Homo sapiens: one gene and its partners. The protein of the gene in region 4 interacts with the protein of the main gene of each other region in a pairwise test. Each region holds a gene or a part of one and is shown on either strand. Other genes may lie near its edges.

Region 1 (7,143 bases), on a different chromosome or scaffold from region 4:
ACAGCAGCTGACTCTTGCTAGAAGCTAATGCAGCTGGTGAATTTAAATTGAAGCCAATGCTCATTTACCATTCTGAAAATTCTAGGGCCCTTATGAATTATGCTAAATCTACTCTGCCTATGCTCTAGAAATGAAACAACAAAGCCTGGATGACAGTATATGTATTTACAACATGGTTTACTGAATGTTTTAAGCCCACAGTTGAGACCTACTGCTCAGAAAAAAAGATTTGTTTCAAAATATTACTGCTCATTGACAATGCACCTGATCACCCAAGGGCTCCAGTGGAGATGTACAAGGAGATTAATGTTGTTTTCATGCATGCTAACACAACAGCTGTTCTGCAGCCCATGGATCAAGGAGTTATTTCAACTATCAAGTCTTATTAATCGAGAAATACATTTTGTAAGGCTGTAGCTGCCACAGATAGTGATTCCTCTGATGAAGCTGGGCAAAGTAAATTGAAAACCTGTAAAGGATTCACCATTCTAGATGCCATTAAGAATATTCATGATTCATGGAAGATCAAAATATCAACATGAACAGGAGTTTGGAAGAAGTTAATTCCAATCCTCATGGATGACTTTGAGGGGTTCAAGACTTAAATGGAAAAAGTAAGTAACTCCAGATGTAATGGAAATAGCAAGAGAACTAGAATTCTTAATAGAAGTCGAGCCTGAAGATGTGACTGAATTGCTGCAATTTCATGATAAAACTTTAATGGTTGAGGAGTCGCTTTATGGAGCAGCAAAGAAAGTAGTTTCTTGAGATGGGTTCTACTCTTGGCTAAGATGCTCTGAACATTGTTGAAATGATACCAAAGGATTTAGCAAACTATATAAACTTAGTTGATAAAGTAGCAGCAGGGTTTTAGAGGACTGTCTCCCATTTTGAAAGAAGTTCTACTCTGAGCAAAATGCTATCAAATAACATTGCAGGCTACAGAGAAATCTTTCATAAAAGGAAGAGTCAATCAATGTGGCAATGTTCATTGTGTTTTAAGAAATTGTATTTTTAAGAAATTACCACAGCCATCACAACTTTCACCAGTCACCACCCTAATCAGTCACCAGCCATCAACATCGAGGCAAGACCTTCCACCAGCAAAAAGATACGACTCACTAAAAGCTCTGACTATTGGTTAGCATCTTTTAAGCAACATTTTAAAATTAAGGTGTGTATATATTCTTCAGACATAATGTTCTTGCACATTTAATAGACCACAGTGTAGTGTAAACATAACTTTTATATGCACTGGGAAACCAAAAAATTCATGTGATTTGTTCTATTGTGATACTCGCTTCATTGCAGTGGTCTGGAACTGAACTTTTACTTGAAGGACTAATATTTCCATTATCAGGGCCTCATTCCATACCTCAGTGACCAAGGATAGCCACTGGGACCCAGGCTGAGTCAATCACAGCATCCTGTCACTGACCACAGGGACAGCCACCAAAATGACCTTTAACTTCTTCCCCTGCCCCAATACCTAATTAGAGCTGGTATAAAAGACACCATTCTCTCTCTTGTCAAAAGATGTAAGAATACATCCCTATAGAGGTCCAAAGCCTTGGTCCTGGGTCTTGTAGAGAAGCTGACCTTAGAGAATGGTGTGGCCATAGTAAGAGAAGCAGGCAGGGGAAAGAAGAGAGTGACCTGTTGGTTCTGAAGTTTCTGAACCCAGGCGTTCCTGAGTCCATCTCTACTAAAAATATAAAATTAGCTAGACATGGTGGCATGCACCTGTGGTCCCAGCTCCTCGGGAGGCTGGCGCATAAGAATCACTTGAACCTGGGAGGCGGAGGCTCCAGTGAGCCAAGATCGCACCACTGCACTCCAACCTGGGTGACTGACAGAGCAAGACTCTGTCTCAAAAAACAAATAAATAAACAAATTTTGTGGAAAAATGTGTTCTTAGTGCCCATCAATCAACACACCAATTAGGATAAGTTGGAGCTGGCCTAAAATAATGATTACAATGAAAAAAAAATTTGCTTCCTATGGGATGAGATCCTCACCAGGTTGATAGTAGAATGGATGTCGCATTGGCAAAATGTGTAAAAGATCTCATTTGTGCTCTGAAAGAATTCCTTTTTTATCAGCCTTAAGTGATCAGTTTACTCTCCTCCTCCCATTCCCAATTATAATGAGTTTCGGAAACTACTCTTTTACTAGAAGAAAAAAAGGGAGAATTTCTCTATTTTATTGACCCTCTTGTGTGGATACATACATCTCCACATATATAGGAATTCACACTCAGCAAAATAAAAAAATATTAGGTCCAATAACATATGAATGAGAAGGACGAGAGGAAAGGACACTAAAGGGACAAGAAAAGGACTCAGAGATTAAACAAAAACAAAAACAGTGATTTAGATGACGAGGCCAGTGCTCAAGGTGTATGGAAATAAGCAGCTCAAATTGGAAAGGTCTCTAGAACCACACACTCCGCACCTGGTGGTGATTACCTCAGGGCAGATGGTGCCTTTCTCGCTGTATCCCTATCACTGATCACAGGTCCATGCCTTAATAAACATTTGCGCAAACAATGTTGAGTAATTGTGAACTTGTTTGTGTGACAGCTACCCTTCCATTTTAATCAGTAATCAGTGTATGAGGTGATGGCTGAGGTGATGGCTGCTAACTAGAACAAAGTGTTTTCAAACTGTACTTTTCATCTCTGCAGTCATAGCTCTCCTTCTTGAGGGAGGACTGGCCACTGAGTCCTTCATGCCCTCTGGACCCGATTAACTATTTCTATCATGTCACTGAGGAGCATGTTATTGCTCTCAGTTACTAACTCCAAACTCCTTGAGGGCAAGGAAACCTGACTGATTTATTTATTCTACCCAGCAAGTGCCTGATGCATGGTCTCATAAAATTTTTTGAAAGAATGAATGCATAGTGCCTATCACATATTAACATAGACTTCTGATAAGCCAGAGAGCTCACATGAAAACAAATTAATTAGAAACTTCTGCAACCTAATGCAGAAGTTCTCAAGCTTTGCGATGCATTGGAATCACCTGGGAGCTTTTAAAAACTGCCACTGTCGCCAGGTATGGTAGCTCGCACCTGTAATCCCAACACATTGGGAGGTAAAGGTGTGAGAATTGCTTGATCCCAGGAGTTTTGAGACTAGCCTGGACAACATGGTGAGACCCTGTCTCTACAAAAAAAATTAGAACTTAGATGGGCATGTTCCCAGCTACTCAGGAGGCTGAGGTGGGAGGATCACTTGAGCCCAGGAGTTTAAAGCTACAGTGACCCATGATCATTCCACTGCACTCCAGCCTGGGTGACAGAGACCTTGTCTTAAAAAAAAAAAAAAAAAAAAAATCCCACTGCCCAGACCACACCAGACCAACTAAATAAGAAAATAAGAAACTTCAGGGAAAGGGACAGATGTCAGGTCAGACCCTTCAGGTTGTTCCAAAATGTAGCCAAGTTTGATAAGCAATGTCTAGGCAGGTGCTTCTCAAATGTTAATGTGCATACAAAACACCTGGGAGATGTTTTACAACTTAAATTCTGATTCCCTGAGGTCTGGGGTGAGGCTGAGGATTCTGGAGGCTCCACAGGCTTCTAGGTGATCCTAATAATGGTGCATCTGGTCTCTAAGGGACAGTTAGGCTCTCCGAGATTCTGAGCAGGCTCCCAGGCGATGATAATGATGATGTACTGCTGGTCTCTAATGACAGTAGGGTGACTCAGGGAAGCAAGCCTAGGTCACAGGTCTTTTTTTCTTTCTGCACCAGCCAGGATGGCTCCACTTTCATCTGTTTCATGCATTGCTATTCTGCATAAAACCTCATTGAGATGGGGAATCTGACCAGCATTGCCCTTGTAATAAGTGAAAGAAGAGGAGAAAATGGGAGTAGCGAAAAGCCAAATCACTCTCTGGGCTTCTCTTAGGCCACAGATGTCCTCCGTGGCTGCTCCAAGGAGCTGGGTGCCTCCTCGTGCTCAGGTGCAGAAATGCACCTTTCTTTCCCCTCTCCGAAGCGGTGCCCACCTTCATGTTCATTACAAGGCCCCTGAGCCTCTCTTAAAAAGACCCTAAGTGAGCACACTCAATCTCCGCCACCCTAGGAGGGGGAACGGAGCTCAGGGACCCCAGGACTTTCCCTGCACCTGAGGGATTTACTTATTGTGCTGAAGGGGGGCAGGAGGGGAAAACAAAACAAAACAAAAAGGGGGAAAACAACAGCAAAACTTAGGCAGCGGAGCAGCAGGAATAGCAGCCTTCCATGTTTCCCGAGTGTTTGGAAGAACATCCAAGTCCCAGCCCGGAGCGGCCTCCGCAGAGGCGCCGGGGTGCAGGGGCGGCGGGCGGCCGCACTTACCATGACTGTGGCCGCGGCCGCGGCTGCCTGGGCGGCCACCGCAGCTTGGTTGGCTTGGTGCTGCGCAGCTTTGATTTTGGCCTGCAAGTGTGCAGGAGGGTGAAAATATTTGCATTTCTCCCTCATGCAACGCCCCTTTATGTAATCCATACAAACGGTTACGGTGTTGTCACTTGTGTCGATCATGGTGCTGTCTGCGGGGTGTGCAAAGCGGCAGTCGGTCTCTCCCCGGGCACAGTTTCCTCGCTGGAACTCCCTGCATACCTAAGACAGGGAAGAAGAGCCGCGCTGCAGAGGCAAGCCTGAGCCCAGGCGCCCCTGCGGCCCCGGCCACCGCGGGAGGAGCGGAGGCTGCCTCGCTTTCAATGGTGGCTCATGTACCACTGACAAGAAAAGATTGATTATGCGGAGCCCAGGTAACCACAATCTCTGACACAGTCATTTGAGTTTTGTTTTACCGCCTTTTCTAGGGTGAAAATCTATATTGAGAAAATAATACGAAATCTGCAGTTCAGCTAAAATAACAAAGGAAAAGCAACAAGGCCTCCATTGTCCCTGGGTAGCATATTATGCAGCTGTCTATCGATCTGTCTGTCTGTCTATCCATCCATCCATATATCTATCATCTATCTATTTATCCATGCATCCATTCCTTCATCTATCATCTACCATCAATCAATCTATCCAATCATCTATCCACCTGTTCATTCATCCATCATCTATTATCTATCATCTATCAATCTATCCCTCTATTATCTATTATCCATCTATCTATCCATCCACCCATCCATCTATCCATCCATCCATCCATCCATCCATCCATCTATTATCTGTTAATCTATCATTATTTTTAATGGTAAAAACTGCAATTACTTTTGCACCAACCTAATATTATCTATCATCTATCTACCTACCTACCATCTATCTATCCGTCCATCCAGCCAGCCATTCATTCATCCATCTATCATCTATCCATCCAGCCATCCATCATCTATCATCTACTGATCTATCTAAAATCTATCAATTAATTAATCATCTATCTAATCTAGTTACCTACCTATCTATATACCTGCTTACCTACCTATAATCTATCTATTTAATCTGTCAATCACCTATAATCTATCTACCTCTCTCTATATCTTCAATCACCTACTTGTATGACAATTCTGACAATGCTATAGGTTTTTTTTTGTGTGTGTGGAGGGATAATTTCACCTATATCAAGCTACCAGGTCATAGCTGTACAAAAAGAATCAGAGAAAATGACGACAAACTTGTTCCTCCTCTCTCTAAGGGGGTGGGGTGGGGTGGGGTGGGGGGAATCTGAACACTCCTGTTTCCCACTCCTTCTCTCCTGCTCTACAAAGATAACATAATCATAAATCAGAAGAACAATATCTAAGACACCAAAATTTTCATTTTTAAGGTCACTATACTATTTTTGACAGCACAGAAAAGAAAAAAAAGACAAAAGGAGAGAAATACGGCAAGAGATATAGAGAAAGAAAAATGGAGGGAAATAGTTTATTTTAAAAATTCTTTAATGCTAAATTATCCTGAAATCTCAAGTAACTAGGATTCTCTATCCCCTGAGAATTCTGGTGGATCAAGATTTTACTGTATGAAAAAATATTTCTTTAGAATTTGAAGAGTATTCTTAATTATGCCCTGCATATAGATAACATAAAATAGCATAAATAACATATGCATGTTGCTTATATAATTCTTCTCTGCTCATAAATATTAGCAGGAAATAATTATGAGTAGAATCGTAAGTTATTTATTTTTAGGCTCCAATTCCAAAGTGGATATGTAAATGATCATCACGCTGATCATTAGTGATGTTATATGAAGGGCCCCTGACATGAAATTCAAGTATTGTGGAAGTCAGACATACTTAGGAAATACTGTTTCACTGACCAGTGACCAGGCCAGCTTGAAGGTAGATAGCATAAATCACCAGATTGTTAATTGTTTCCTCCTACTTTGGATATTAGCCAACATTCTAACTTTAGTTCATAAAATGCGCAAAATAAATCACTAAGATGTTCCCACGGATTCTGAGCAAGCCTTCCTCCATCAATGGAATGACTTCTGTCTGATAGCATCATAGGTGTGGACCAGCCATCAGGCTCCTACCAAGGTGCTTTGTGTGCAGCTGACTTCATTCCTGGTTTGAAATGAACCAAAAGCCGCTCTGCTAAAATCATTGTGATTCATTTTTACATGTCTTTGTCTACCAGCCCTGTTGAGAAGGACAATTTGTTCCCAATTCCACTGATTTAATTTGTTTTCTAAAGTACAGTCACATACTGAACACAAAAGCTCCGTGGGTCCAGCAGGTGGAGCCCAAAACACTTTTCCAGTCCTGTGAAAGGTCTATTCAGTAATTGACAAGGGTAGGCTGGATCTTTTCAAAATAGTAACAATTAGAGTTTCCATTCTCTTCATCTGGGCATCCAGATTGAAACTAAGTGAAAAAATAAATATCTTCTAAAATATTTGCAGTTTGAAATTCTGAGTTTTAAAACTTGCACAGGTTATTAGGCAGCCACATTTTATTGCCTTCAAGGTTTATTGGGTTAATATTTAAACAAATGCACATTGAAAGAACATTCTCTAATAATCCCACTAACAGAAAGCACTGTGTACGTCCTAACCAGATGCATCACCTAACACCTTTAATCAGTAATGGAATTAAAGGAGCTCTCTGAAAAATCTATGAGAATCTTTATACACCCTTATGAAATGCTGTAGTGAATATCATAGGGATATAGCAGTAAGATACATAGATGAG
Region 2 (7,143 bases), on a different chromosome or scaffold from region 4:
TCAGGAGTTGGAGACCAGCCTGGCTAACATGGTGAAACCCTGTCTCTACTAAAATACAGCAATTAGCCGGGTGTGGAGGTGCACGCCTGTAATCCCAGCTACTCGGGAGGCTGAGGCAGGAGAATCACTTGAACCTGGGAGACAGAGGTTGCAGTGAGCCAAGATCCAGTGCTTTGGCAACAGAGAAAGACTCACACAAAATTAAAAAAAAAAAAAAAATTAAAAACCAAGCAGTGATGCTGCTACTTTATAGTATGAGAGGCTCTTCTGAATACCCATCAACTTCAGAGTATTTGGATTTGAGGTTGGCAGGGCAGTTGATAATTTCATTCACAGATGAAGAAGCTTGAGGTTCAGAGACATTAGTTATCTCACCCAAGATCACCAAACCAGTTAATTGCGGAGTCATGATTAGATCCCAGGTCTATAGTACAAGAATGCTTACCACTTCATCACAGGGTCTCATTAGCATATGCACAAAAACATAAATTCATTTCATCTTTATGCTGGCTCACGCATGTGCAGGCACACACATACAGAGTTAAAACTTGAATACTCTCATGATAATGGCATCACTGCAACCACGGTGGAATCAGCGACAATAGACAATTAGATGCGGTTTCAGGGTAATTTTTTTGATCCCAGTTTGAAATTTTTTTTTCTTAAAAAAATGTATTCACCTGCCATGTAACAACTGTATCAAAGGGATATAATTGCTGTAACATAGCAAAGAACTGTGGCTTACATTTAATTTGTTTGAATTATTTGAAATGAGCAATCATCCCCCAGATGCTGGCATCAGGAATACGATATAGTAGCTACCTGGTGGCTATCTGGTGCAGCACCGTTTCCATTCAATTCATAACCATCCACCTCCTGGGTGTCACTCTTCAGTTATCTACCTGATATATCATTGGGCTGTTTACCCCAGGCTGATCTAAAACTGATACAAGTATACATTCCTAACTTGAATCACTTAGCAATAGCATACTTCTCTATTAAATCACCCAGCCAAAAATGTTTCCTCTTGAGTAGTAAAAATAATAGCAGCAACAATTTTTACATTATTCAAAAAACTGAGGCTCTAGCCTTTGCTTACAAAGAAGTGAATGAGCTGAAATCCTCTAAAAATGGCTTTCTCACTTTTAGCCTCTTAATTAGAAAGTTATCGTTAAAAATAAATTCTAGTTCTAAGAATCTGACCATCATTTGTTCAAAACCAGCATATCACAGAATTAGCAAAAAATCATTTGGTTTGTCTTCTTTACCTTCACAACTTGAGGCAACAGCAGCAGATTTTTAGCATATGGAAATATTCCAGGTTTTTCCCTCCAGTTCCCCTTGTGGAGAGGCACGCCACAAAATGGAACAGAGGGCAGAAGTGAGTGTCTTGCTCTAGCTCTGCTGCCCACTTGTCTTTGCACCTATGAAATGAACATATACTCCCAACTCTCAGGTCCCCTGCAGCTCTAAAACACAATTCTCTGATATAATCTGCAAAGTAAGTTTGAGACCCTGTAAAACTATGACATTGAAGAGTTTACAAAAAAGGTTCCAAATTTTATTTGTTTTTGAGATGGAATCTCGCTCTGTCACCCAGGCTGGAGTGCAGTGGCGCAATCTCCTCTCCCTGCAACCGCCGCCTACCAGGTTCAAGCGATTCTTCTGCTTCAGCCTCCCAAGTAGCTGGCACTGTAGGCACACTCTACCATGCCCGGCTAATTTTTAGCAGAGACAGGGTTTCACCATATTGGCCAGGCTAGTCTCGAAATCTTGACCTCGTGATCCACCTGCCTCGGCCTCCCAAAGTGCTGGGATTACAGGCATGAGCCACCTCACCAGGCTCGGTTTCAAATTTTAAAATTGCATGTTTGTTTTCTTACTATGCATTTCCCTAATTCTACTCTTAAAATGTATTATTTTTTGTTTGTTTTTTCCTATATATTTCAAACTATAAAATCAGCTTAAAAACCAAGGGCTCCCCAATGATTTGCTACTGACCAGGAGATCAGGCCCAGTCTCTACAATGACCTCTCCTGCACTAAAGCAAAAGCGAGGTGCTTACTTAAGGCCAGCTACTTATTCAATCCCGGGGCCAACCTTTCTCAGCTGGAACTTAACCAGCCCCAGTACTCACAAAGCCCAGCTCACATTCACTGCATGTCTTCACTTACAGATATAAATGCCTGCACACACATGCCCTTTACTTACATTGTGACCATTATGTGGAGCCACTTTATGGATGTAACTGCATTTTGATGTTTTATTTTTTAAGACAGGGTCTCACTGTTGCCCAAGGTGGAGCGCAGTAGCATGATCATAACACTGCAGCCTTGACCTCCTGGGCTCAAGCAATCCTCGCTCCTTAGCGTCCCAAGTAGCTGGGACTACAGGCACACACCACCACATCCGACTAATTATGTTCTTTCCGATACTTCAATATCTGCTTATCTGCTAAGCAGAATATGACACATTCTGCTTATAATAAATAATGTGATATAAATCTTACAATCGATTCATTTCCCCAGCCTCAAAATTTAGTTCTACAAAAATATTAGACTAATACATGAAGCAACTTTATGAACATAATTTATTTTGTTAGACTTGATAGGATTGCCGGATTTTCAAACTAGAGTTTCCGCATCAAGAAACTGAAGACGAAAACATTAAGTGCAGTCCTTTTCTTGCTAATTGTAAGAATTCTAGATAAATCACTTCTGCAATATATTTTTTAAAAATTCATCACAGATTTTCAAACACTGTTACTGCTAAAGCACAGTAATAAACAGTTTAGAGCTTGGTGGCTCACGCCTGTAATCCCAGCACTTTGGGAGGCCGAGGCGGTCAGATCATGGGGTCAAGAGCCGAGGCGGTCAGATCATGGGGTCAAGAGTTCAAGATCAGCCTGGCCAACATGGTGAAACCCCGTCTCTACTAAAAATACAAAAATTAGCCGGGCGTGGTGGCGGGCGCCTGTAATCCCAGCTACTCGGGAGGCTGAGGGAGGAGAACTGTTTGAACCCAGGAGGCAGAGGTTGCAGTGAGCCGAGAGCACGCCACTGCATTCCAGCCTGGGTGACAGAGCGAGACTCCAACTGAAAAAAAAAAAAGAAAAAAGAAATAAAAGAGCTTAGTTTCAGCTAAGTGAAAACTTCAATTTATCAGTTTTCTAAGTAATGGCACTGTTTAAAATTAAAAGACACACCTGTGTTTAAAAACATAGCTATTTGTGTTAAATGACAATCAGCCACATATGATTATACTCAGCTTTCTTTTAAACTAAAATCACTCAATCAAATACAGTCGTTATCCTGAACACACCAAAGCAGCACTTAGGGACAAGAAATCATTCCTATCTATTGTGCCCTGCATGGAGTACAAGAACTATATATGTGGGGACTTTTAAAAGGGTAACTAACGGGGTGGGGAGTTTACCTATATAATTCCATAAATGCCAAAATTTTCCAAGAGCTGAGATGAGCACTGGTAGTTTTTCTCTGCTTATGAATTGATACCCTTTGGTATAAGGACTGACAAGAAACTATACTATTTAAGTAAAGCAATTTTATCTTCCTAAATCTCCTTCCCAACAATGACAGTAAAGTAAAATTAAGCACCTTGGCAGCAAGTACTACAAATAACATGACATGTTTTTAAGTTGTTTTTAAGAAAACATATAAGTGCCTTTTCCTCTAAGGGCACAAAACTATCAACAATCACACAACTGCTTCATTTCTTAAAATTATTAGACAATATTTCTAATGTCACTTTCAGATTTTCATTTTTTTTTAAACCATGTGCACATACCCTATCTTTGAGAAACTAGAAATCAAAAAAGGAGGTAAGATGTCAACATGTTTAATTCAACAAACATCTGAGAAGTGTATGCCAGGCTCTAAGGTAGGCACCTTCAAGAAAGTAATTTTAAGAGGGCAGACAGGTAATAATATTCCAATGCTAACTATAATGATCACTCCATAGAAGGTAGTACCTAACACAGACTGGGGTTATAAACAAATTTCTTAACAGTCCCACTAAGATAACAAACTATATTCACCATAAAAGTTTATTGTTAGTTGTGATTTTCTGTTAAGTAAAAAATATAACTGTAAAACACGAAATAATCTAGCTATTGTGGGCCCAAAACTTTTTTAAAGGGGTATAAATATTCCCTAAAAGTTATCATTAAGGGTAAACAACACATTATTGCACTTAAAATTCACATTAAGCTGTCTTAATGTCAAACACAGGAGGGACTGGAGAAAAAAATGAAGTCCCGTTGATCATGTAAATAAAAAGCTGGTATATATCTGTGTGACCTCCTAACATAGGCCCACTCACCACTCCCCATCCCTTGGCCTTAAAATAGAACCTTGGATATGTTCATAACAGCTGACATACCAATAGCAGAAAGTTGCTCAGTGGGCTGCCTTTTAAGTTATCAACAAACAAAAACCAACAATGTCACAGCATTTTCCATCTCCAACAGAGAAGGGCAAGTTTTGCTTACAACTGCAACATCAAACAAATAAATCAAACAAATGTATTAGCTACACCGAATTTCTCAAGTAAATTAAACTGTAGTTCCAGTTTATAAAAAGTTGCTCCTATGATCACACTGGTGTAATTCCCTTGATATAAAAACCAAACCAAACCATAAAAAAAAAAAAGGAAAGAAAAAAACCACCAAAAAAAAAAAAAAAAAAGAAAAGAAAAGAAAAGCCCTTACATGTCTAAGTATATTGGCCTCAAAAAAAGAATCTGAATCATGCTTCGGTGAAGGCCAGGTCAAAGCATGAGGGTTTTATTATACTTCACTTCTTTCATCACAGAAATCTATTTCCCTGAAAAAGGAAACCAAAAACCATTTGCTCTTATGGGAAACTGACCAATTTCAATCAGCTCCAGGACAGCGACAGTGACTAGTGAAGCATTAACAGAAATATAATGTGCATAAAGCATTTAAGAAGTCAAATTAACTTGATTTAACTTGACATTCTCAGTCATTTAAGAAAAAGTGTTCATCCCAAAATACACTCGTAAATGTGACTAGCAAAGAGACCTATTTCTATCAACTCAACTGTGTTACAGTCGGATACAACTTTTACTACAAAACATGTAAACTGGATACAGTTTCCAAAGGAATCACGTTCCACCTACAGGGGAATTTAGCTTTAAAAGTACAGAATGAATGTTTAATAAATGCCCCATAATGATACAACTGATCTTTTCCGTGACTGCCAATATATAGCTGCTGACACCTCCTGGGTGAGAAAAGATAATGGAAAGAAGTGATTATAAATAGTAGCTTCCTTCTTGCTACAACTAATTCAAGGACTGTGTACAAAAGCAATATCTTAGTTTCTAAAGAACAGATTATTTCACCTTAAAATCTGTTTGTTACAGATGATGATTACTGACAACAGTAATTGCTTCTTCAGACAAAAAGAAAACCTTTTTGTAAGAAATCTGTATAGCAAGAGTCCTCTCAATACCAACCACCATATAATTCTTAAGTCAAGGCTTTTGTAAATGAATTCTCAGGAAAAAAAAAAATTATGGTAAGAAAACCTTATGATACATCCAATAACAGAGGCAGAAGAAGTGAAAATAAACATTAACATGAAAAAATAGCAACTATTTAAGCAAGTTTTAACGAAATATTTTTACTCATATATTTAAAGGAGAGGGAGCAGGCAGGGTATAAACTAAACTGAGGTCAGACAGAAAGTTTACTGTAAACACAAAAAGACCATCAGAAAATGAAAATATATTTTCAAATCAGTAATACGGCATTCTAATCCATCTGCTCTCTTTTTCTGAGCCACACACTAATTTTTCTGATATCCACGATAAAAAGATTGACTGTTCTTCCTCATTACACATTTTTTATTTCCCTATCAGCAGCTTTAAGCCCACCTCCACCTAAAAAATTGAAAACTCAAAATCAGCTTTTAAAATACTAGTTCTCCATTTTCCCCTAATACAGGATTGTTAAGTCTAATAGACCGTACTCTTCACCTTCTCGATTCTAAATTACAAAACTTTATTATAACAATTTGCATTCAACTACTGTTGTTTCATTCTCATGACAAGAAAAGTCTGTTTTTTTAAAAACCATATATTAACTGCTCTAAGGGTTCAGTTGAAAACGTCTCTCTAAAGGTAGAGCAGTTTAAGACCTAGGTTTTATGTGTAATCCTATAATCATCTCTATCTTCAATAAAAGGTTTCAAACTCAAGTTTATGTCCTTTATATTTTATGATGGGCCCAACCTAAAATGTATTCACAACTTTAAAAAACAACCGTGTTGAAGATACTTCAGTGGAAGAGCTGGCACACACACCCCCACCACCAGCAACAGCAAAAAACAAAACAAAACAAAAACAAGCAGTAAAACAAAAGGACTGTCCACAGTCAAGATACAGACTAAAGGTTAACTTGGCAAGGAATTAAAATACTCATTCTAAAACATCCAAGTCTTCATCAACTGGGAAAACCAGCACACTTAATCCTCAAATTTGTAACTAGCCAAATGGAAATTCTTAGGCTGACAAGCATATTTTTAAAAAGCTTATTCTTTGAAAAATATTTTAAAATAAAAAATTTAAAATCTCATTTAAAATTCCTAATTATCAGAAAATACATCTACTCTAAGCACGATGTTAACTTCATCAAACCAATCACTAAAGTAAAATTTTTACTAAATTTTATCTAAATTTAAAAGTAATTTTTCAGCCAAGCATTATAGGCAAAAAAAAAAAAGTAATGCCTAACCAGAAACAAAAGTCATGATCAATTTGTTTTGGACAATGACAAACCACAAAGGGGTAAAGCACAAGATGCCAAATTTCACAATTAAATCATCCAGAAAAAAAAATGTGATGGACTTCAGAAACCAATATTTTTCTTAAGTCAAATTAAGTTTATAACAAGGCTAACAATTACAGGAAGCCGCTTATTCCACACTAAGGAATAGCCCTTTTTCCTGCATGTTTGTACTGGTCTGATAAAAAACAATCAAACTTCCTCGTCATTATATTGCCCATTTTAAACATACTATATGCCACACAGAAGCAATCTTTACACTGGGGAATTGACAAGGCTAAAACTAAAGATAGCAAGACAAGAGATGGAGTAAA
Region 3 (7,860 bases), on a different chromosome or scaffold from region 4:
GCTGCAACACTCGTTCTGCCACTTGGAGGAAGGGAAAGGACAGAAAGCCTGTCAGATTTCTGCAGGAGAGGGACGGTCGGCTGGGTCTGCCCAGCCCCACTCACCTTGCCACTGCTGGAAGGAGGCAACAGTGCCCAGGGGCCCGGGTAGGCGTTGCAGGTCCTCCAGGGGCCCCCCACCACTGCGGCGCTCATTCTCCAGGTACAACTCCAGCAACAGCAGGTCCACAGAGGCACCATCCCCCACCACACGCACCGCTCGGGCCTGGGGAACCCGGGCCAGGGACACCAAGGTCCCCTCCAGGCCCAGATTCTGGGCCTGCTCCTCCAGGACACGGACATCTGTGGGGTATGTGCAGGTCAGCTCAGGGAATCCCCCCTAGCCAGCACCTCAACCCCAACCCTGCCTCTCACCTGCCTCAGAAAGGGGCTTGGGCAACTGGACCAGAGCCCGGTCTGGCCGGGGGCTGGCCAAGGCACAGCAAGGCTGTACTGGGAGCCCCGAGGCCCGCAGCAAGGCCTGGACATGCTGCTCCAAGCGCTGGGGCGTGGTGCCAGGGGGCAGTCCTTGGAGCAGCAGGCGTGCAGGGGCTCGTGGTGGAGCTGGCCGCAGGCTCAGCTGGGCACCATGTAGTTCGTGATCTGCCTGGGCCAAGACCCTCTCGGCGTCTGTGGGCAGGGGCGGGGCAGGATGTCAGGCATTAGAATATCAGGGCACCCAGGCTGTCCCTTCAGCCAGCCCTCTCACCTGCAGGCTCTCTGAAGGTGAGGACGCCCCCACAGCCCAGTCTCTGCCAGCTCAACACAGGTCCCCCTCCAGAGCGTCGGCGGTTTTCAAAGTAGAGAGTGAGCAGCTCGTCGGGCACGGCAGGGGGCAGTCCACGGACCTCCACTGCCACCCCTGCCTCTGCCTCCGCCATTGCAACCCTGGGACGGGGCATCAGGTGGGTAGGGAAACAGCCCATTCCACCCCTCCTGCCCCTCCCCAGGCCCCTCCAAGGTGTGTCCTCAATGCTCCCCCATTATGGGTGGCCCCACATACAGCACTTACATTCCCCGTGGCCGCTAGGCAGCCTCAGGCCATGAGCTCAGCCAGGACTCCTGTGCCTGCCCCTCAGCAAGCCTAACCCTGCTGGGAGCAGGAAAACAAAAGTGAAACTGAAAGACGGAAGGAGGGAGGGAGCAGCTGGGCCCTGGGCGCTGAGGCCTGGGTACTGGGGCTCAGATGCTTCCTCTCCTGCTGCAGCCTCAACCCCCAGCTGACCAGGAGGTATTGGCCAGGCTGGACCCCTCAGGACCCTCCAGCCAACCCAGCCCAGCCCACCGGCCCTACCTGGCCCACTCCAGCCCCTGGTTGGCAGGGTAGACAGGAGTGTCCCCTGGTGGCCCTCCACTCCCCTGGCCTCCATGGCCTGAAAATGGCCAATCACCCGCCCCACTAAACCCACCAAGGGGCCTGAGTCACTGCCCCTCACTCAGGATCTCCAAGCCTCTGTGTCCATGACACCCTCTGCACACAAAGTGCTGGGTCTCCAGGCCCGCCCCCGGCCAAGGCTGGCCTTCAACGCCCCCAGCAACCTTCTCAACCCTGCTCCTGGTCCCTCACACCTGCCAGGTGCTGAGCATGGGCGGTTCCCCACCCTTGGTCTCCAAGAATGTGCATTGCAGCACAGCCTTCCTCCCGCCTCAGGTCTTGCCTGCCCATTCCTGCAGCTTTCTGTCCTGCCTGCACCTCCCCATCTCACACCATCATTGGCATCGTCACAAGTAACCTCAGAAGGTGACAAGGTAATGGCTCCACTGCATTCCTTGCTGCCGCTAATCCTCACCACAGAAAGGGAAACGGAGGTGCAGACAGGCCCATAGCAGCACCAGGCCTCAAACCTGGGCGGTGCCTTCAGAGTCCACACTCCCACTCGCCACAGATCTCCCACATCACCCAAGCTCCGTTTGCTTCCAGCCTTTCAAAGAGCTGTGGCCACTACCACTCTCCATCTCCTACTTCCCACTCACCCCTCAGCCCACCAAAACCCAGCCCCACCCCTGCTGTTCCTCCCTCCAGGGAGCTGAGGACCCTGGCCAGCCTGCACTCCTAGCCCTGCACATGCCACACCTCTGCTGCCCCGACCCTGGTCCCAGCCTCCAGCATCTCTCGCTAGGTAGCTAGGCTAACCTCTTAACTAGTCTCTGTCTGCCACTCCCATGGTGGGTCCTCAACAGAGGTGTCAGGGTGAGCCTTGTAAAATGACACCAGCAGCTGCTACAGCTCCCAGCATCAGCAACAGTAGAAACCAAAGTCCTGGGGGCCGGGCGCAGTGGCTCATGCCTGTAATCCCAGCACTTTGGGAGACTGAGGCAGGTGGATCACGAGGTCAGGAGTTTGAGATCAGCCTGGCCAACATGGTAAAACCCTGTCTCTACTAAAAATATAAAAATTAGCCGGGCATGGTGGCAGGTGCCTATAATCTCAGCTACTCAGGAGGCTGAGTCAGGAGAATAGCTTGAACCTGGGAGGTGGAGGTTGCAGTGAGCTGAGATCGTGCCACTGCACTCCAACCAAGGTGATAGAGTGAGACTCTGTCTAAAAAAAAAACAAAAACCCAAAGTCCTTTTGAGGACCTGCCCCCTGCCCAGCTGCACCTGACCAGACCTCAGTCCCTTCTCTGGCCCCATGCCCCCTGCACACCCTGATGCTCAGAGGGCTCCAGGCTCTCAGCTCTTCCTGCAGAGCTACAGGCCACTCCTGCCTCAGTAGCCTGGGACTGGCCCTTCCCTCTGCTTGGCCCTACCTTCCCCACAAACCCCCATGGCCACCCCTCTGGCATGATCTCCCTTACTCTGCCTTTTTTTTTTTTTTTTCTGAGACGGAGTTTCGCCCTTTCACCCAGGCTGGAGTGAAGTGCCGTGATCTCGGCTCACTGCAACGTCCACCCACTGGGTTCAAGGGATTCTCCTGCCTAAGCCTCCCAAGTAGCTGGGATTACAGGCACGCACCACCATGCCCAGCTAATTTTTGTATTTTTAGCAGAGACAGGGTTTCACCCTATTGGGCAGACTGGTCTCAAACTCCTGACCTCAGATGATCCACCTGCCTCAGCCTCCCAAAGTGCTGGGATTACTGGTGCCAGCCACCATACCCAGCTATTTTATTTTTATTTACTTATTTATTTATTTTTTGAGACAGAGTCACACTCTGTTACGCAGGCTGGAGTGCGGTGGCACGATCTCAGCTCACTGTAACCTCTGCCTCCCAGGTTCAAGCCATTCTCCTGCCTCAGCCCCCCCAATAGCTGGGATTACAGGTGCACACCACCACGCCCAGCTAATTTTTTTTTGTATTTTTAGTAGAGACGGGGTTTCACCGTGTTAGCCAGGATGGTCTCCATCTCCTGACCTTGTGATCCACCCGCCTCGGCCTCCCAAAGTGCTGGGATTACAGGCGTAAGCCACCGCGCCCAGCAAGCATTTTATTTTTCTTAAAGGTCTCTCAAATTTTGTGAGCTTCTGCTTCTACAAAGGTAGAAGTTACCTTCTACAAGGGTAAATCCATCCCTGCTTTTTCCACGTTTTCTCTAATGGAACTCATCACAGGTTATCCATTACGCCGACCCTGGCTGCAGAGGGCCTGCCACAGGCACCACTCACACCACAAGCAGACTGGTACAGTTTCGGGAATTTCTGTGGACTGGTTGTCCAGCTGGGGGTAACTTGAAACCAGCCCCGGTGGAGTATTCACACCACGCGCATGTGCAAAACACGCACCCCAGGCTTCCCCTCACTAGGTCCGGCTGCTAAACACTGCGCCAGCGCACCATAGGTGCAGGACTCAGAGCGGCCTGGGAGAGGCCGGCCCTCCAAGGGCGGGAGGGCAGGTGGGGTCTGGGCCCCGGGTGGGAAGGCTGGCAGCAGGATGTACCCTGCCTGTGTCAGTCACTGCTCCCCCAAGAGGACTTGGGAGCTAAGCAGGGAGGTGGCCTGGCCTCCAGTCCTGCTGCATCCCCAAGCCTCAGCCCCTCGCAGCTTGTGAGGACGTTAGGCAGACAAGCGAGCGTTCAGGGTCTCTAGTGTGAAAACAAGACATCGTATTTGTTAGTACAAAGGGTGACTGTGGTCAAGAATAATTGTACATTTTAAAACAACTCCAAGAGTATAACTGGATTGTTTGTAACACGAAGGACAAAATGCCTGAGCTGATGGATACCCCATTTACCTTGATGTGATTATTATCCATGGCATGCCTGTATCAAAACATCCCATGTAGCCCGTAAATATACACCTACTATGTATCCACAAGAATTAAAAAAATAAAAAAGGGTCTCTAGTAGCAGGCCTGGCAGAGTTTGGGCTGACAGAGCAAATGGGGCAATTAAACCACGAGGCCTCGATTTGGGAACTAAAGGATTAGGCTTCTTGATTTGGGAGAGATCTGGATGAAAAGAAGTGAACGTCGGGTTTTAAGGCCGAGAACGGACGGTCAGTCCCGGGCAGCTTCAGCAAATCCCGCATTTAGGAATAAATTTCTTAACTACCGAACGGCCAGTCAAATTGGCCAGACCAGACTTCTGCCTCCAGGGGTCTTCAGCGCCCACCGCCCGACCCCACCCCTCGGCAGACAGTGAGAGGCGGGCCTCTGGCCGGAGCGAAGAGGAACACGCAAGGCGGCGCAGCGGGAGGGGTCCGCGGAAGCCCCGCCCACCTGCCCCTCCCACCCCGAAGCTCGCCCGGCCCCGCCCCCTGCCCCGCCCCGTCACAAGGCCCCGCTGCGTCTTCCGAGCCGCAGGCGCAGGCCCAGCTGAGCGGCCGCCGAGCGGGTGCGGGTGCGGGCGCATCGGCCATCACCGCGCGGCCGCGCAGCGGACACCGTGCGTACCGGCCTGCGGCGCCCGGCCACCGGTGAGTCCCCGGCCCGAGCCCAGGAGCGCCTCTGACCCGCTGCGCCGCGCGGCCTGCCGCCCCCGCCCCCGCCCCCACGCGGATCTTGCGCATCCGAGCGTGGCCGCCTCGGGTCAGTAAGTTGGTCCGGCCGGGGCGCGCGGCAGCTCGCGGCCAGAGGTGGCGGCGGTGGTGGGGGCGGGGAGCCGCGGCGGCCTGGAGCCGGAGGGAGGGGGCGGCGCGCTGCGGCGACTGCTGGACCCGTGACCCTGTGCGCCCCCGGCCCGCGGAGGGCCCATCCGCTCTCGGTGCCAGTGCCACGGCCGCAGCCCCTACCCGCCTCGCCCCACGCCCGCTTTGTTCCCCGCACGCCCCGTGGTCGCTTCCATCCCCCACACACCCCCGCACCCCGCTGTTCCCGGCGTACCCCACTGGCAGGCACCGGCAGCCGATCCAGGCCCGATCCCCCCACCCCGGAGCCAGGGGCCGTTGGGCCCTGTTGTTGGGCTCGCGGGGGTGGGGGGGCTCGGGCCTTTGTTGGTCACAGATGGCCCGGGGATTTCCTGGGATAGAAATAGCCGCCGGCTCCGGCCCCTTAAAGCTGCTTAAGGGGCGGGATGCGGAGGGGAGGGTCCGGGCACACCCCACACGTCCCCGGCCGAGACCCCAGCCTCCGCGCTGAGCTCCCACCCGGGAGACGCCGGCAGCGGCGCAGGCCTCCGGTTGCTTGTGAGAAACGACCCAAGCCCCAAATCCCGAGGCTGGCGGTCGTCCCCTCGCCCGGCCCCTCCCCCACCCTAAAGGCGGCCTAGAGCCCTGGGAAGGCCCCACGGCGCCGCCCGTCCGGTCCTCACGCGCTTCTCCGGGCCCAGGCTCCGGGGCTCCCCACAGCCCGGGGCAAAGGTCACGGTCTTCCCTTGCTTCCCCCTGGGTTCCCAGAAGCAGGTGGAGTTGCGCAGGGCTGGGTCCCGACGCTGTCGTCAAGCCAACTGTTCCACTGTTCCTTGTCTGTCTTCTCTAGGGGCGGACCGCGGAACCCGAGGCCATGTCCCATGAAAAGAGTTTTTTGGTGTCTGGGGACAACTATCCTCCCCCCAACCCTGGATATCCGGGGGGGCCCCAGCCACCCATGCCCCCCTATGCTCAGCCTCCCTACCCTGGGGCCCCTTACCCACAGCCCCCTTTCCAGCCCTCCCCCTACGGTCAGCCAGGGTACCCCCATGGCCCCAGCCCCTACCCCCAAGGGGGCTACCCACAGGGTCCCTACCCCCAAGGGGGCTACCCACAGGGCCCCTACCCACAAGAGGGCTACCCACAGGGCCCCTACCCCCAAGGGGGCTACCCCCAGGGGCCATATCCCCAGAGCCCCTTCCCCCCCAACCCCTATGGACAGCCACAGGTCTTCCCAGGACAAGACCCTGACTGTGAGTCTCAGGAAGGGAGGGGTGGGGTGGCCGGGAGGGCAGGGGGAGGTGCTTGTGAGTGGCGCTGACCCAGCCTGTCTGCTTCTCAGCACCCCAGCATGGAAACTACCAGGAGGAGGGTCCCCCATCCTACTATGACAACCAGGACTTCCCTGCCACCAACTGGGATGACAAGAGCATCCGACAGGCCTTCATCCGCAAGGTGGGTAGGGGCATCTCCAAGGCGGTGGGGGCTGTGGCTCCCAGCGGATGACTCTGAGCGGCTCCTTCCCCAGGTGTTCCTAGTGCTGACCTTGCAGCTGTCGGTGACCCTGTCCACGGTGTCTGTGTTCACTTTTGTTGCGGAGGTGAAGGGCTTTGTCCGGGAGAATGTCTGGACCTACTATGTCTCCTATGCTGTCTTCTTCATCTCTCTCATCGTCCTCAGCTGTTGTGGGGACTTCCGGCGAAAGCACCCCTGGAACCTTGTTGCACTGGTAACCCCCAAACCTGAGCCTCTGTGCCTGGGTCCGGCCATGCAGTCCCACACGCCCACTCTTCCGGGCCTGGTCACCGTGGTTCTCCTTGTGCTCATGAGGCAGGGGCCGGCAGGGGTGGCATGGGGGCACACACCCAAGGTCAGCCTGTGTCTCCCAACTGCAGTCGGTCCTGACCGCCAGCCTGTCGTACATGGTGGGGATGATCGCCAGCTTCTACAACACCGAGGCAGTCATCATGGCCGTGGGCATCACCACAGCCGTCTGCTTCACCGTCGTCATCTTCTCCATGCAGGTGAGGGGCCTCCCGTGGCTGGGCTGTGGCCGCAGGGGCTGAGCAGCTTTCCCAGGCCCAGCCCCATGGCCCGTTCCTCTCCCACCTGCAGACCCGCTACGACTTCACCTCATGCATGGGCGTGCTCCTGGTGAGCATGGTGGTGCTCTTCATCTTCGCCATTCTCTGCATCTTCATCCGGAACCGCATCCTGGAGATCGTGTACGCCTCACTGGGCGCTCTGCTCTTCACCTGCGTGAGTGAGGGGTGACCTTGGCCGGGGGCGGGATGCTGGGCAGGCAGGCTTGTCCCTCAACACCACTGTGCTGTCACCTCCAGTTCCTCGCAGTGGACACCCAGCTGCTACTGGGGAACAAGCAGCTGTCCCTGAGCCCAGAAGAGTATGTGTTTGCTGCGCTGAACCTGTACACAGACATCATCAACATCTTCCTGTACATCCTCACCATCATTGGCCGCGCCAAGGAGTAGCCGAGCTCCAGCTCGCTGTGCCCGCTCAGGTGGCACGGCTGGCCTGGACCCTGCCCCTGGCACGGCAGTGCCAGCTGTACTTCCCCTCTCTCTTGTCCCCAGGCACAGCCTAGGGAAAAGGATGCCTCTCTCCAACCCTCCTGTATGTACACTGCAGATACTTCCATTTGGACCCGCTGTGGCCACAGCATGGCCCCTTTAGTCCTCCCGCCCCCGCCAAGGGGCACCAAGGCCACGTTTCCGTGCCACCTCCTGTCTACTCATTGTTGCATGAGCCCTGTCTGCCAGCCCACCCCAGGGACTGGGGGCAGCACCAGGTCCCGGGG
Region 4 (7,898 bases):
AGTAATGTCTGCCTACAATCTTAGTTCAACCAGGACTTTTAAAAAAGAACTTAATACTAATTTAATGAAAGAAGTATAATCACTGTAGAAATTCTGAGTACCTCTTATGTTCCAGGCAGTGAACTAAGTGCTGTGGGGGTAAGACCTAGGAAGATGTAGTAGTCCTTCTCTTAAAAAAAAAAAAAGGCCCTATGGAAAAGGGTGGGAGAAGGAAAAAGGAAGACAGAATAGTAAACACGTACTGACATACAAAACAACAGAGTTAAGATGTTTATTTATTCATATGAACATGTCACAGTTTTAGAGAACTGTAAACATAGACAACTTAACTGTTTCAAAGAAAGAACAAGAGATTAGAGAAGGTAGAGGAAGGAAATAAGTGACAAAGAAGTTAGCTTATTATTCCCCTGGAGAAACTCTGATAGGGATGAAGGCAAGGCAGATGCAAAGATAAATAAAAGACATCAAAAAAGCACATTCTTTAGCACTACAAAACCAGAGATTCCTCTTGGTAAGGAACAGATACAGTAAATGAGACCCCTGCCATGAGTATTTATCAATCATTCAGTGTGTGATGATACTTCAGATTTTTAGATACAATGTAACTTTTATCTTTGTTAAATACATGTTAGCTAGTCTTTAAGCCTAGCTTTCCCAGATGCTTATATCAAAGTACACATTGTAACTCAACACCAAGTCTTGGCTTCAACAGATGTTGAAGGATAAAATTTTTTTTTTAATTGTTTAGACGAACTCTCGCTCTGTCACCAGTCTGGAGTGCAGTGGTGCAATCTCGGCTCACTGCAACCTCTGCCTCCTGGGTTCAAGTGATTCTCCTGCCTCAGCCTCCCAAGTAGCAGGGACTACAGGCGCGCGCCACCACGCCCAGCTAATTTTTGTGTTTTTTGTAGAGACGGAGTTTCACCGTGTTGGCCAGGAAGGTCTCGATCTCTTGACCTCGTGATCCGCCCACCTCGGCCTCCCAAAGTGCTGGGATTACAGGCGTGAGCCACTGCGCCCGGCCTGAAGGACAAATTTCAAGTGTGTCCCAATTCTTTCTTCTAGGGAGAGAAGGCAGAAATGGAAGACAACACAAAACACAAAGACGTTCTATTAAGCAGGCGTTTCATTGAAGCATTGGATGTGCTTCAGTAGGCCTCAGATTCTCAAAACGGGACGGATACTTCAGTGAGACGTTAGAGAACACATTTATTCCTGTACAAGGCCACACCAAAAAAATCTCTATCAATACTGAACATCTATCTTCTTTACTGAGCATCCTTTCTTTGGTAGGAGTGAAGAGATGTGAAGCTAGTCAAACTTCTCGAGTGCCCCTCCACCTTCATCTATTCCCTAAAAAGCAATTTCCCCATCAGAGAGCAGAGCCAAGTGGACTATGATCCTATCAATACCAGGAGAGGCAAGAGAAACAAAGCAGCGATCTGACTCCTTGGTACTCAAGGTAGGAGTGCTAGACCTGGAGAGGCCGGGAAATTAGGGTGCCCAATTTAAACATTTAATTAAAAAGTATTCAGACTTAAAAAAAAAAAAAAAGATGCAGAGAAAAGGAGTGCCACACTATTCAGAAAGGAATGCAAATGCTGAGTCATCACTCTTCATTGGAAAGGAAGGAAACCAGAATTAAGTGGTTGGAAGATGGAATTCATTCATTAGATTGAGCTTCAGGTAAAAAGCAACAGCAAGACAGGAGAAAAAGCGTTCAGAAGACACACATCAAATAGCGGATGAAGACATAATTTTAGCCAACTCTGAAGCTTTCGACGCACAAACAGATTAGGAAGAGGCAACACCTAGAGAGCAAAAGGAGTTTAACAACTGGTTGTCAGTTTAGCGTAGGGAGCGCTCAAAGTAAACTTCTTTATCCAAGAAGGGAAAGATGCTCGGGCAGCAAAAGGTATCCCTTATGTACTTCAAAAGTAGCGGGCGCTAGGCGGGTGTTTCTGACAGCGTGGGCGGGGGCACGTGGGGCATAAAGAGAGAAGGGGCTTGAGTGGTGAAAGAGTGTCCTGCTTCCTCCGAGAGCTTAGCTGGGGAGAAGAGCTGGGAGCGACTCGAGCTGAGGACGTGGAAGGGGTGAGTGCTAATTCCTCAGGGCCCGCGGGGCCCACCCCCGGGCCCACCCCCAATCCTACCCCCGCCAGGCCCTTCCCCCGTGGGCGCCGGCAGCTCCAGGCCCAGCCCAGGGCGTCCAACGCGGAGGGGGTGCAGGAGTTCTCCTGGGCCTGACAGCCTCAGCCGTGCAGAAACCCGGCCTAGGGAGGGCATGCAAAGAAGGACGCCAGAGAAAAAGGTCGAGACAAGCCCCAGACCCCAGGAAGTGACTGTTTGGGGGAAGGGAGGATTTCCTTCCCAAGGAAAAGGGGACAGATGAGGAATGCACTTCGCGTCCACGCCGCCCTGGTCAGGGAGCCGCCTAGAGTCCCGGCTTCGGCCCAGTCTCTCCTGCTCCCTCCCTTAGCGTCCCGCGGTGCCCGGGCCTCTTGGCGCCTGGCACCCCTCGTCTCGGGTACTCACAGAGTCCGGGGCTGCCCGTCGTCTTCCATCATGGTGGGTGCGACGGAGCGATCCCGGGACAAGGGGGAGGGCAGGGTTGGGGAGGGGAGGGGGTGGGGAGGAAGGGGAGGGGGGCTCTGGGCACCGGCTGGGGACAGAGGAAAAGGCACCGAACCCTGCTCTCGGGCTCTCTCCCCCCAGCCCGCTCCGGACACTGCGCTCCAACCAGGAGGAGCAGGAGGAGGAGGAGGATGAACAAAATGGCCGCCGCCACCAGCCAGGCAGGAAACAGGGCAGAGCGCAGGCGCGACCCGCCAGGTCACCGCTCAGGCCAGCCGCGACAGCCTGCAAGGGGGACGACCGAGGGGAGAGAAAAAAGGGCCGCCGAGGAAACCCTGGGACCCGCTCACGACGGATCACGTCGTCGCTGTGGGCCTCTGGCCGGCCGAAGCCCAGCCAGCTCCGGGAGAGATCGGGCAAAAAGAGAAACGTCGTGAAGCCGAAGTCTCTGGGAATTGTGGTCCTGGAAATGAGAGAGGGAAGCACTTCTGCAGAGGACTTCTGGAACCTGTGGTTAAGAGGAGCCGCCGGCGCCCACCCGCGCTGGGACGTGAAGAGGAGACTTCTGGGTAGTGTAGTCATACGTGAGGACGTGCGACGACCAGGAAGTCGGCGGGCTGGGAGGTAAAGGGAAGAATAAAAGCGACATTGAAAGGCGGGGAGACCAAGTGGGGAAAAGCGCTGTCTGGGAAAGCGAACTACAAGTCCCAGAGTTCCTCGCGCCGGGGGCTGTCCTCGGACTGCTCCAGGCATTGTAAGGCTCTTCTGTTGGCCCAGTCTGAGCTGCTGCTCCGCCTTCGTCCAGCCCGAGAGCGGTTTCTTCAACTGTGGCTCAGGCAGCACTCTCCCTCCGCGTGGTGTCCGAGCCAGCAGGGCCGTCCGGCCCTCCTGTGTTCATCAGAACGGCTGGCTCGCGTTAGTCAACCGCCGCTTCGCGCGACAGTCAGAAGAGAGGCTGTGCTGGCGGGGACCCGGAGGGGTTGGGGTGTTTTGGGGACTCGATTTCCCACAAATAGGTATTTCTAGCCTATTTGTTAAATACAAGTAGGTGGCCTGCTTGTAAATTGCTTTACAAGTTTCAGAGGTTTCCCTATCAAATGTCTCATCGGATAGTGGGGTAAGAAGAGGAGCCCTATTATAATGACTTGCCCAACTCCCCCCGTATTCTTGGAGTTAAAAGAAAAAAAAATCCTTGGGCAGAGACGTGCACAAACATAAAGTTGCGTTTACAGACATCAGTCATGTGGGCTAGAAACGCAGTTTTGCATGAAGATAGGGGAAGCCATGTTCATACTAGCTCTGCATCCCTGTAGAATTTGTCTTCTCACCCCCCACAACAGTTCCTGGTGTGCTTTTTTCCTCCTCTAAGTACCTTCAGGAGAAAGTACTTGGTCTTGTAGCTTAGTGAAGAGTGGCGATGAAGAAAGATCTTTCAGCCCATTGCCAGAACTTAACTGCCCCGGTTAGTAATGGCTTAAGAGTTGCTTCTGCCGACATGTACTAAGTGCATGTCGACCTCTGCAAGTGGCGGTGCGTATGCGTGCCACTGAACATTAATCTTGAAAGCAGAATCAACCATGCAGCAAGCCCTTATGTTGTCCATTTTCAGGGGAGGAAATTTCAACCTGAAAGACTTCATAGAGACACGGCAAAGGAGTTGAGCCCCATAAGAGTCCGTAGGAACAACAAAAGGCTCAGACGCCAGGACCCATGGCTAAAATGTATGGGCTGGGGATGCGGGCGGGAGCGGGGGGAAGGGAACTAAAGCTAGAGAGGACCTTGTAGAACCGTGTTGTCAAGAATCTATTTCATGCTGAGGAATTTGAGCTTTCTCTTCCAGGCAGTGAGGAGCCACTCAAAGGTTTTGTCTATGTTTTTAATTGGACCTAGGTGTAGAACTGGATTTAATTATAATCCAATTCATTAACCCATGCCTGGCCCGCTGTGATAGTTTCCTGTTGATGCTGTAACAAATTACTGCAAATTTAGATACTTAAAACAACACGAATTTATTTTCTTACAATTCTGGAAGTCAGAAGTCCAAAATCAGTTACACTGGGCTAAAATCAAGGTGTCGGCAGGGCTGGTTCCTTGCCTTTTCCAGCTTCTAGAGGCTGCCTGCATTCCTTGGCTCTTGGCCCCATCCTCCATCTTCAAGAAAAGAAGCATAGTATCTTCTTTCTTCTCTGCCTCTGTACGTACATCGTGATTCTCCTGCCACCCCTTTTCATTTACGAGAACCTTTTGTGATTACTTTGGGCGAAGATTATCTCAAGATTCTTAATCACATCTGCAAAGTCCCTTTTAGCATAACATTCCCAAATTCTGGGAATTAGGACATAGAAATCTTTGGTGGACCATTATTCAGTTTACCGCACCCACCTTTATTACTTTAGTTTTGATTATAGCCACAAACCCACCACACTAAAAAGTTATAATGACACGAGTTTATATCTGTATCTATGCTATACCTCCTACACACAATAACACACACCCCTGCCTTCGCTTGGGGTAACCATCTTTCTGAATCCTGTCTTTACTATTTATTGCTTTCCTTCTACAAGGTTTTATTCCACATGTACATAGTCCTAAAAATCATATGTATATACATGTATATTTGAGTTTTTTTTTAACTTAGTAAAAAGAATATGCCCACTACAAACTAGAATGGTTAAAATGGGCATGTTTACTGGCAGTGAAATTATTAAGGTTAAAATCCAAAACACTAACACCACCAAGTGCTGGTGAGTATGAAAAGCAACAGGAACTATCATTCTTTGCTGGTAGGACTGCAAAATGTTATAGCCCCTTTGGAGGACAGCTTGTCAGTTCCTTACAAAACTAAACATAATGCCTAGGTACTTACCCAAATGAGCTGAAAACATGTTTACATAAAAACCTGCACACAAATGTTTACAGCAGCTTTGTTCATAATCATCCCAAATTGGAAGCAACTAAGATGTCCTTGATATAAGTGAATGGATAAACTGTCGTACAAGGTGGTACATCCATGCAAAGAAATATTGTTCAGTGATTTTTTTAAAAAGAGCTATTGATATGGTTTGGCTCTGTATCCCCACCCAATCTGATCTTGAATTGTACTCCCATAATTCCCACGTGTTGTGGGAGGGACCTGGTGGGAGATAATTTGAATCCTGGGGGCAGTTTCCCCCAGACTGTTCTTGTGGTAGTGAATAAGTCTCACGAGATCTGATGGTTTTATCAGGGGTTTCCGCTTTTGCATCATCCTCATTTTCTCTTGCTGCCACCATGATTCTGAGGCCTTCCCAGCCATGTGGAACTCTAAGTCCAATTAAACCTCTTTTTCTTCCCAGTCTGGGGTATGTCTTTATCAGCAGTGTGAAAACAGACTAATACAGCTCTCAAGCTACAAAAAGACATGGAGGAATGTTAAATGTACAGCACCAAGAGAAGCCCAGTGGAAAAGGCTGTAAACGCTACAACTTTAACTATATGACACTCTGGAAAGGGCAAAACTCAGTGGTTCCCTGGGCATCAGGGAAGGAGAGAGGGATGAATAGGTGGAACACAGGTCATTTTTACTGGTAGTGAAATTATTCAGTATGATACTCTCATAGTGGATACATGACCTTATGCATTTGTCAAAACCCATAGAACTGTGCCACACAAAGTGAGTCCTAATGTAAACTATGGACTTCAGTTAATCATAATGTATCAATAGTTGTTCCTCAGTTGTACATTTGTTGGAATTGATGAACCAATATTGATACATTGTGATTAACTGAAGTTTATATATCAATTATGAATTGATATACTTGTTAACACTAATATAAAACAGTAATAACAGGGGAAACTATGTTTGTAATGGGAGAGAGGGCACATGGGAACTCTGTACTTCATGCACAATTTTTCTATAAACCTAATACTGCTCTCAAAAGTCTATTACAAAGGAAAAAATTATGTCCTTGTAATCTTTTGAGACTGCTTTTCACTTAATTAACACACATAAGATTCAGCCATATTTTATGGCTATCATTCATTCAGACTATTATATGATATTCCAGTGTATAAATATACTACATTTGTCTGATTTCTCATTAATGGATATTTGGGTTGCTTCCAGGTTTTTATACTGTGAATAATGCTGCTATGAACATTCTTTTTTTTTTTTTTAACCTTTCTTTATTTTTATTTTTTTTTTTGTTTTTGAGATGGAGTCTTGCTCTGTCATCCATCTAGAGTGCAGTGGTGCAATCTCGGCTCACTGCAACCTCCGCCTCCCGCATTCAAGCGATTCTCCTGCCTCAGCCTCCTGAGTAGCTGAGACTACAGGTGCCCGCCACCACTCCTGGCTAATTTTTGTATTTTTAGTAAAGACGAGGTTTCACCATGTTGCCCAGGGTGGTCTTGAACTCCTGACCTCAGGTGATCCACCCGCCTTGGCCTCCCAAAGTGCTGGGATTACAGGTGTGAGCCACCACGCCCAGCCAGCTATGAACATTCTTGTGTCTCCTGTGATAGATGTGGAAGAGCCTTTCACCCCTCAGCCATTAGACCACCAGGGAGTGCAAGAGCTTTTCTTTGATCTATTTGGATCTATACCTAAAAGTGAAATTGTCAGGTAACAGGGTATATGAACACTCCATTTTGGTGGGTAACATCAAACCTTTTTCCCAAAGTGAATACACAAATTTGTACTCCCATCAGCATCGTTTAAGAGACTCTGTGAGCGGATCCACATTTTCTTCAGTACTTAGTTTTGTAGTCTGACAATCAAAGTATTAGCTCAATGTGGTCTTAATTTTTACTTAATCAATAAAGTTGAACATCTCCTCATATTCTGTTAACCATAAGTTTCCTCTTCTGAAGCATGCCCATTGATATCTTTTGCCTATTTTTCTATTATGTTATATGTGCTTTTCTCAATTTTTTAGGAATTTTTGATGCTAATTCTTTGTTATATATGTATATTACAAATATCTTCTCCTAGTTTGTAACTTGTCCCTCTCTTTTTAAAATGCTTTTGATGCCAGGCATGGTGGCTCACACCTGTAATCCCAGCAGTTTGGGAGGCTGAGGCAGGTGGATCACCTGAGGTCAGGAGTTCGAGACCAGCCTGGCCAATATGGTGAAACCTCGTCTCTACAAAAATGAGCCAGGAGTGGTGGCATGTGCCTGTAATCCCAGCTACTTGGGTGGCTGAGGTAGGAGAATCGCTTGAACCTGGGAGGCAGAGGTTGCAGTGAGCCAACATCGCTCCACTGCACTCCAGCCTGGGCGACAGAGCAAGACTCCATCTCAAAATAAATAAAATAAAATGGTTTTGATGAACAAAAGCTTTT

Evidence for each region.
Region 1: the proteins of TIAL1 (region 4) and MBNL2 interact in binary tests that used the Homo sapiens proteins (3 or more experiments, as listed by UniProt).
Region 2: the proteins of TIAL1 (region 4) and QKI interact in binary tests that used the Homo sapiens proteins (3 or more experiments, as listed by UniProt).
Region 3: the proteins of TIAL1 (region 4) and GRINA interact in binary tests that used the Homo sapiens proteins (3 or more experiments, as listed by UniProt).

Annotation. Positions count from the first base shown.
Region 1 is NC_000013.11:97,344,271-97,351,413, reverse strand, and holds part of MBNL2 (muscleblind-like protein 2), read right to left. Parts: intron 4,611-7,143; coding exon 4,347-4,610; intron 1-4,346. UniProt on the Homo sapiens protein: Mediates pre-mRNA alternative splicing regulation. Acts either as activator or repressor of splicing on specific pre-mRNA targets. Inhibits cardiac troponin-T (TNNT2) pre-mRNA exon inclusion but induces insulin receptor (IR) pre-mRNA exon inclusion in muscle.
Region 2 is NC_000006.12:163,417,718-163,424,860, reverse strand, and holds part of QKI (KH domain-containing RNA-binding protein QKI), read right to left. Parts: intron 1-7,143. UniProt on the Homo sapiens protein: RNA reader protein, which recognizes and binds specific RNAs, thereby regulating RNA metabolic processes, such as pre-mRNA splicing, circular RNA (circRNA) formation, mRNA export, mRNA stability and/or translation.
Region 3 is NC_000008.11:143,985,308-143,993,167, forward strand, and holds the start of GRINA (protein lifeguard 1), read left to right. Parts: upstream 1-4,748; 5' UTR 4,749-4,892; exon of another isoform or gene 4,893-5,004; intron 5,005-5,892; 5' UTR 5,893-5,916; coding exon 5,917-6,295; intron 6,296-6,384; coding exon 6,385-6,497; intron 6,498-6,570; coding exon 6,571-6,771; intron 6,772-6,937; coding exon 6,938-7,066; intron 7,067-7,157; coding exon 7,158-7,301; intron 7,302-7,384; coding exon 7,385-7,534; 3' UTR 7,535-7,860. Other genes in the region: protein mono-ADP-ribosyltransferase PARP10, read right to left, coding at 1-21, 105-341, 414-668, 748-964. UniProt on the Homo sapiens protein: Potential apoptotic regulator.
Region 4 is NC_000010.11:119,593,899-119,601,796, forward strand, and holds the start of TIAL1 (nucleolysin TIAR), read right to left. Parts: upstream 3,067-7,898; 5' UTR 2,568-3,066; coding exon 2,536-2,567; intron 2,095-2,535; exon of another isoform or gene 1,666-2,094; intron 192-1,665; exon of another isoform or gene 102-191; intron 1-101. UniProt on the Homo sapiens protein: RNA-binding protein involved in alternative pre-RNA splicing and in cytoplasmic stress granules formation. Shows a preference for uridine-rich RNAs.